Linked DNA regions of Homo sapiens. The protein of the gene in region 1 interacts with the protein of each later gene in a pairwise test. Each region holds a gene or a part of one and is shown on either strand. Other genes may lie near its edges.

Region 1 (3,749 bases):
AGCATCTTATGCATAAAAGGAGGTCACTTTATTCCTGCTCAACTCTGGGGGGAGATCTGAGATCTTATTTTTTGTAAATGTGCTGTACCAATAATTATGGTGTTTCTATCATACATTTACTCTCAGCTTCTTCTTCTATAAAATTAAGAGGTTGGAAAAAATAATATCTAAGTTCCCTGCCAGCTTGGACATTTTGAGGTTATATGATTATTGGTTCAGTGTTTTTTGTTTTTGTTTTTGTTTTTAAAAGAATGTCAGCCAGAAATATTGAAATCAAATTTTATTTTTGGAAAATGACATTACACACATCTTGCAAATGTACACAGAAATGAGAATGCGATGAAGAACAGAGCTTGAGAGCCAAAATAATTGCAAGAGCAGCTCTTTGGCTGCCTGGTATTGAATGCTGCGAATCTTCAGCACTCACAGTTCACAGCACCTTACACACATGGCAAACTTCTCTAGACAACCTTGAAGTCCTCTGACCCAAGAAAGCCCTCATTGAATTGCGGAGGGGGTGGGGGAAGAGGGGTGTTACAGGCACAGGAGATGAAAAGGGTCTGCTCCAGCTGGTTTATGGGGGCCTCACCAAACCTACCAGTCCAAGTGGGGTCAGCAAACCAAAAAAGGAGAATGCCTCTTGAAATACTGCTTTTGAATCACAATTTCAGAGTAGGTTAGGTATTGCCTAGGACACTGATAGTAATGCATTTGAACTCATGCCCTTGTTTTTTTTTCTGGCTATAACTATTCTAAATAGGTGGCTAAAGTTCTTAAATATCTGTTTTATTTCTCTCATTTTTTCTTTTTTTTTCAAATAATTATTGGTCATCGGTCAAGCAGAGTCTTCTGAGGTCTCTATCTTAAAACAGCTGCAGGGATAAGGGACATCACTACCTACTGTCTTTGGATTACATGTGATTCTGAAAACTATTCAATCCTGAAATGTAATCAAATGGCCAAATACAACCCCAATTTACCACTGATTTTTACGTAAAGTTGAGTCTTTGATCACAATGCTGTTCCTTAAGAAATGATCAATAACTGCTGAGAGATGGTTGAGAAATGCCTTTTCCCCACATTTTGGTTTGTTTGTTGTTTGCTGACTTTACTTGGCAAGAGTTATTGGGCCTCAAATCAGATATTTACAACTGTAAGACAACTGGGAGCAGGGAGAGGGAGAGGGCAAGGGGGTGGGAAGAAGGACTACAAAGAAGAATATATTCTTTTCAGAGGTTAAAACGAGTTAAGAAATGTGATGTACAATACCATGCATTTACTCTCCAAAGCTAGTCACTAGCAAGCTAACACCTCTAACACTACAACCACCAATTACAGCTGTTTTGCTACAGGTACTCAATTCTAACTACAGCTATAGGGCAGAAAGGGTGGGCTGTTTCCATTTTAAACTTTCTCCCTTTGAAAATGGCCATAAAAACATTTTCTGTACAAGTTTAATGGCACAAAAAGGTGATCAAAAACATTTTAAAGAACTTACCACACGTGGGAAATGCAAAATTCAATAAAACATGCATTAGTTGTATACAAGTCATAAGGGATCATTGGCTTCAAGCTGCAATATATTACAGGACCATACATTGGAGACATTTTGGCATAACCTCTTACTTGTTCAAATCCCTTTTGGATAACTTATAAAGAAAAGTCATTGTAAATTTTGGCATTCCATATGGTATTGCCAAGCAGTGACATTTCCAAGGGCTTTGCACTCTGTTTAATAAATTAACACCTACAATCTGGCTTCTTTAGGTCCACTAATTTCTCTTATATGGACTGTCTATTCAGTATCATGAACAGTTGGTGTCAAGAGTAAATGTTTAGGTGACTCAGAAGGAAAAAATACATGTCAATTAAGCAAATGTCTCTTTTTATAGTATAGATTTGTTAAATTATCTTTTCATTTAAATCAACTCCGATTGCCTACCAGTTTAGTTAAAACAGCTCAACAGTTAGCAAGCCCCAAACAAGATTATTATAGAGAGTTTAATGTGTAATGGTAAAACTTTAAGCAATTACTCCCCCACCCCCATCCAGCCAAAACAAATGACAGGAGAAATTACCTGTGGTCCCTCATTATATTATATTGCAGCTTTAAAAATTATGGGCACATCAAACAAAATCAATTATTAGTATTTAGCTGATATAAATCCATGGGTGGATTTTTTCTCTTCAGCTGATTATGTCTCTGAGCACGCTTCACTGCTCCACAAAATGTCAGACTAAAAAGGAACCACAAAGTATTCTGTACAGTGCTTGGAAGGCAAAGACCTAAAGATACATGAGCTATAAGGAAACTGCTTGTAAAGATCTGCTGAGGGGGATTACGAATGAAAATGGAGAAGAAGAAAGGGCCAGGATCAGGTTGATTCCCACCAACATACTTCTGATTGGACTGGGGTAGGACCAGGGCTGATTGAATCTGGAAATAATTTATCATCAGTCCCAAGGCAAAATCACAGGCTAAGAAGAGGCACATGCCCAATGCCTAGACAGGGAGGAAGGAAAAAGTACAAATAAAGATAATAAGAGGGAGAGACAGAATTGCACAGGAGAAAGGATGGATGTTTGTACTGTGGAAAGAGAGACTGATAACATAGAATATAAACTGAGAACAGAGGAAACTAGACAGAGAAAGAAAAGTCAAAGAGATACACAAGAGGTAGAGCGGCAAAAAGCCATTGATTCCCTCAGGTTATTGACCTAGTAATGAGAAACGCTAATGCCTTCAAGTCTTTGCCTTACTTACAAGGTGACTTCTGTTGTGCCATCTGACCTCTCCCAACTAACCTGCCCTTCTGATCAGGAGCAGAAAGATGCCTTAATTACCAATTGGAATTCTATACTCCCCTAGTCTCAGGCATCCAAGGTAAGAAAAAATCACCTCTGATTCCAGAAGATGTTGAAGCCAATAAACCAAGGGATAAAAAATTAGTCTTGTCAGCTGGGCATGGTGGCTCATGCCTGTAATCCCAGCACTTTGGGAGGCCGAGGTGGGCAGATAATTTGAGGCCAAGAGTTCAAGACCAGTCTGGCCAACATGGTGAAACCCCATCTCTACTAAAAATAATAATAATAAAAAAATAGCCAGATTTGGTGGCGCACGCCTGTAATCCCAGCTACTCGGGAGACTGAGGCAGGAGAATCGCTTCGACCTGGGAGGTGAAGGGTGAAGGTTGCAGCGAGCCAAGATTGTGCCACTGCACTCCAGCCTAGGTGACAGAGGGAGACTCAGTCAAAAAAAAAAAAAAAAAAAAGTTAGTCTTGTCAAATGATAGCCAATGTCACGCTAGCTAAGCCAAAGCGGGAGGTCTGCATAGATCCTTAACAAGGAAACAAGGCAGGACGCAACACTAAGAGTCTGGGTGTATAAAGACCATACTAGACTTTTGGAGACAAAAACAATTTCTGGGGACCAGGCTTTAGGAGAAAGGGAGGGAAGGCACCTTTTCCTGAAGGGATAGATGGGGCAACATTCTCATGCCTCACCCCAGATGAGCTCCAAAACACTTATGGTTCACTTGGGAGACCAGTCTGGGACTTAAAGCCAAAGCCCTTCAGTGAAGGCAATATATGAGTAAGGCCTGGAAATGGATCCAAGTGGCCCTATGTGGCCAAAGACAGGTTCCAATCATCTTTTTAAAAAATCAATGCCTTTTATTTCCATAGCAAACTGGACAACCATAAAAGAAGTCGTTCAAACCACTGTCCCAGTGTTTCTATCTGGGGAAGTC
Region 2 (3,749 bases), on another chromosome or scaffold:
AAGTTGAAAGCTAACATAGAATCAATACCTTGGGTTCTTTTTTCCATTTCCAAAACGAATGTGAGCCAGATTCAAGATTCTCTGTCAGCACTACACCAGGTTTTGTCAATTTCACTGAACACAAGATATTTTAAAGTCTCCAATTCGATATAATTCATGCTGAGTTCTTTAAGTACTATTTGATATCCCAGTGATTTTTTATTACTTCCACTTTGGGGACAGTCTTGTGAGTCTCTTTTGAGAGCGTTCGCTCCTAAGTCTGTAAGATGCCTTTCCTCCAAATCTTACCATTTTCAGAATTCTGCTAGAGACATATCAATTAACCAAAATCCAGCTTGCCAGCATCCTCAGCTAACTAAAAGTTATGTTTTGACACAACTTTTAGGGAAAAGGGGCAAATCTCTAGTAAACGAGTTGACTTCAGGACTCTTCAAAAAAAGAGTCTGTTTATTCAGCAAAACCCAAGGGCCCAAAACAGGTCCCCACCCAAGTAGTCTTACCTGTAAGGTCACCAAGCTGGCTGTGGTGGCCAGGTCAATCTTCCCAAATTTGATGAGATTTCCATAAGGGTTAAAAGGAAGAGTGAACGGTTTCCTTTGGCTTAGGGGCTTTTCTCTAAAATTCCTTGTCTTCTTCCCATCTGGACTTTTCCCTCTGAACTATTAGCTTACTGCCAACCACCGTCCCCACAGAAATCACAAGAGTTTAGGCAAATGAAAAGCAAGTTCTGCCCAGCCTTTTACATCTAAGCACAACAGCCCATACTAGGACAACAAATTACCAATGACTTAATGACTAAGGCACAGCATTCTCTTCAACCTCTAAAGAAAAGCCCGTAATGTCCTCTACTTAATACAAGTGAAAAATATGAGAACATGTTTTGGAATATTTTTGCTTCAATTTTTGAAGGTGAAGAGTTCCTTCTATTAATTCAAGTTAACTAGAGTCAGAAGATACTACTTAGTAATCAACTTTACTGTGCTTTCACCTAAAATTTTTCCTCCAAATTATTTAGGATTTGCCTTCTGTTCAGAAAATTAGTTTCCACAATATCCTTCACTATGCCAGAATGCTGACTGACTTAAAAAAAAATGACCATTATGAAAGGAAAAAACTAACCTTCAACACCCCTTAATTCACTGCCTTTTATTATTTACATACAAATCTGTCCTCCAAACAGGAGAAGATGGGACGGCAGTGTCTTACCACCGCATCCCCCACAGCTCCTCGCACGAAGCCTGGGAGTAGTGGGCATTCAATAAATGCCTATTAAACACTTCAGTCCTCTCATAACAAGTTGGGGCATTCCGAAACACTGGCTCCACCCCTCCAGGGTCGGCCGCTGGCTCCCGATGGCAGTCTGCCTATGGCCTTGCTCTGGTGAAATGAAACCTCGTCGCTCAAGACCCAGGATGGGGGCAAGGGAGCCGTCCGACCACATCCCGCAGGGCAGCAGATCCTCTCTTCATCCCGCCAGGCCGCTGGTCCTGAGGCCTTTCCCACCCCATTCGGGAACCTACGTCGCCAGCCGGGGATCCACAGGAGTACCAGCCCCCGCCCCACCCCGCAGACAGCCTGGCGTCGGGACACCGGGGACGCCTGCGCAGAAGAACCCGCCTGGCCCCTTGGCTCCAACGGTAACAATGCTCCCCTCCGAAAGACAGCCAGAGTAGTCCGGGGGCACCAGTACACGTCTGCGCGCTCCCCGACGCCTTGGCGCGCCCCTGGTGCTCAACCTTCCCCACGTGAGCGCGCCCGCCATCACGATACTCGCTGACGGGGTCTCCTCACCTGAGTCGGGCTCCGCCCCCCTCCTCCTCGCTGAAGGAGGCGGTGACCCCTCTCCGATCGGACTCGGCAGTGTCAGAGGAGGTGGGAACGTCCTGACCAGCGTCTCCGTTACGGGACTTCCTCCCCCTTCCACCCGCCCCCCTCCCACCCCGCCTCTAGTCCCCTAGCTCCTCCAGCCAGTTCGCCGCAGCACTCTGAGAACACGGCGGCGGCGCCCGAGGATAAGCGGAAGTGACGTAATGCAAGAGCGCCTACTCCGCCCCATTCCGCCTCTCCCAGTTGGGCTGCAACCAATCAGCAATGGGAAGGGCGGGGCCGGGGTAGGAGTGCAGCCAGCCGGCGCGCGGAACCTGGAGGAATTTACTTAGCCCCCGGAAAAACTGACCAATCCACGGTCCCTGAAGTCTGGTTGTGTTTACTACCGACTGAATCCGTGAGCTCTCTGACCAATCACCCTTTGCCTTACAACATGTAAAACGGTTATCAAATGCCTTTTAGGGCGGGATTTATCACTAAACTGCTCCAGGTTTGGACTATAGAAATGCGGCTGTTCGCTGCAACCAATCAAAACCCTCTGTGGTTTAGGCTAGCGGGCTTTCCGCCTAAATCCGCCAATCACAACAACGACTGCGTGATGTCTGAGGGCGCCGGAGAGGCGGGCCCTCAGGGCAGGCCGTACCGCCATTGGCTGGTTCTGAAGGATTTTTCCACCCTCGTGGTGCCCGGCGCTTTAGTGACCCAGGGCTCTTCTCCGGGGTGAATTCCCTTCGCTGAACACACACACACACACACACGTAGAGGGCTGGAGATTGAGTTCCCACTTCATAGACGTTGGGAAAGATAAGATTCCAAAAAGCTCTTTAGGTTTAACTAAGCCAAAGTCCAGGGTGAAAACCGCGAATAAAAAACGCTGTCCATCGGATGGCAGTTAGGTCGGACCCCGCCCCTCGTCCAGTCCGGGTGGCTGCGCGTCTGGAAACGGTGGCGCCCCAGGAGCCCGGCGCTTGGCCCCGCACTCGGCTGCAGGTCAAATAAGCCTGTAGTCTGCATGCCCAGATTTATAATCACCTGCACTCCCCCCACAAAAAAATAGGAAGCGCTAAGCTCTCCCACTCCTGTCCCAAACGTGGAAGGGTCGCGGACTTGTATGGGACGCGGTCTGAAAAAAGCGAGCCCCGGGGCGACGCTCGGGTTTCCAGGTGCACCCTCGGAGGGAGAACCCGATCCCTGAGCATCGGACACTGGGGCCAGGGAAGAAACCCCCTTTCCTAGGGTGAGGACGGCAGAAGAAAGCTGCCTTCTCCGGCGCAGCGTGTCTGGGAGCGCTGCGTGGCTCTGGAGACAAAGGCAGGCCCGCGAACTCAGCTGGGTTCTTCTGGGGGTGGGGGTAAGGGTCTTGGAGGAGCTCCCAGAAAAATGGAACTCCCAGCCGGGCGCGATGGCTCACGCCTATAATCGCAGCAATTGGGAAGGCTGAGGCGGGCAGATCGCCCGAGATCAGGAGTTCGAGACCAGCCTGGCCAACATGGTGAAACCCTGTCTCTACTAAAAGTACAAAAATTAGCCGGGCGTGGTGGTGGGCGCCCGTAATCCCAGGCAACTACTCGGGAGGCTGAGGCAGGAGAATCGCTTGAACCCGGGAGGCGGAGGTTGCAGTGAGCTGAGATCGTGCCGCTGCACTCCAGCCTAGGCAACAGAGTGAGATTTCGTCTGGGGGGAAAAAAAAGGAACTCCCCGCTTTAAGAATGGAACACACCGAATACCCCTACAGCAGATTCCATCCCTTCAGTTACTGGTCGGAAGTGTTGATTTCAAAAAGCAACCTGTTTGCGTGGATTTCTTTAAGGGCTCGGTGGAGTCTGATGTTTAATTCTTTTCCTTAAGATTCGCTGACACTATAGCCATCACACATATTTTACTGACAGATTGATCGGTAAAATAAGGAAAATATGGAATGA

What was found. Proteins that work in one complex are often made in the same cells at the same time.
Region 2: the proteins of DCX (region 1) and ZBTB5 interact in binary tests that used the Homo sapiens proteins (3 or more experiments, as listed by UniProt).

The regions. Positions count from the first base shown.
Region 1 is NC_000023.11:111,293,514-111,297,262, forward strand, and holds the end of DCX (neuronal migration protein doublecortin), read right to left. Parts: 3' UTR 266-3,749; downstream 1-265. UniProt on the Homo sapiens protein: Microtubule-associated protein required for initial steps of neuronal dispersion and cortex lamination during cerebral cortex development. May act by competing with the putative neuronal protein kinase DCLK1 in binding to a target protein.
Region 2 is NC_000009.12:37,463,424-37,467,172, forward strand, and holds the start of ZBTB5 (zinc finger and BTB domain-containing protein 5), read right to left. Parts: upstream 2,028-3,749; 5' UTR 1,792-2,027; exon of another isoform or gene 501-1,791; intron 1-500. UniProt on the Homo sapiens protein: May be involved in transcriptional regulation.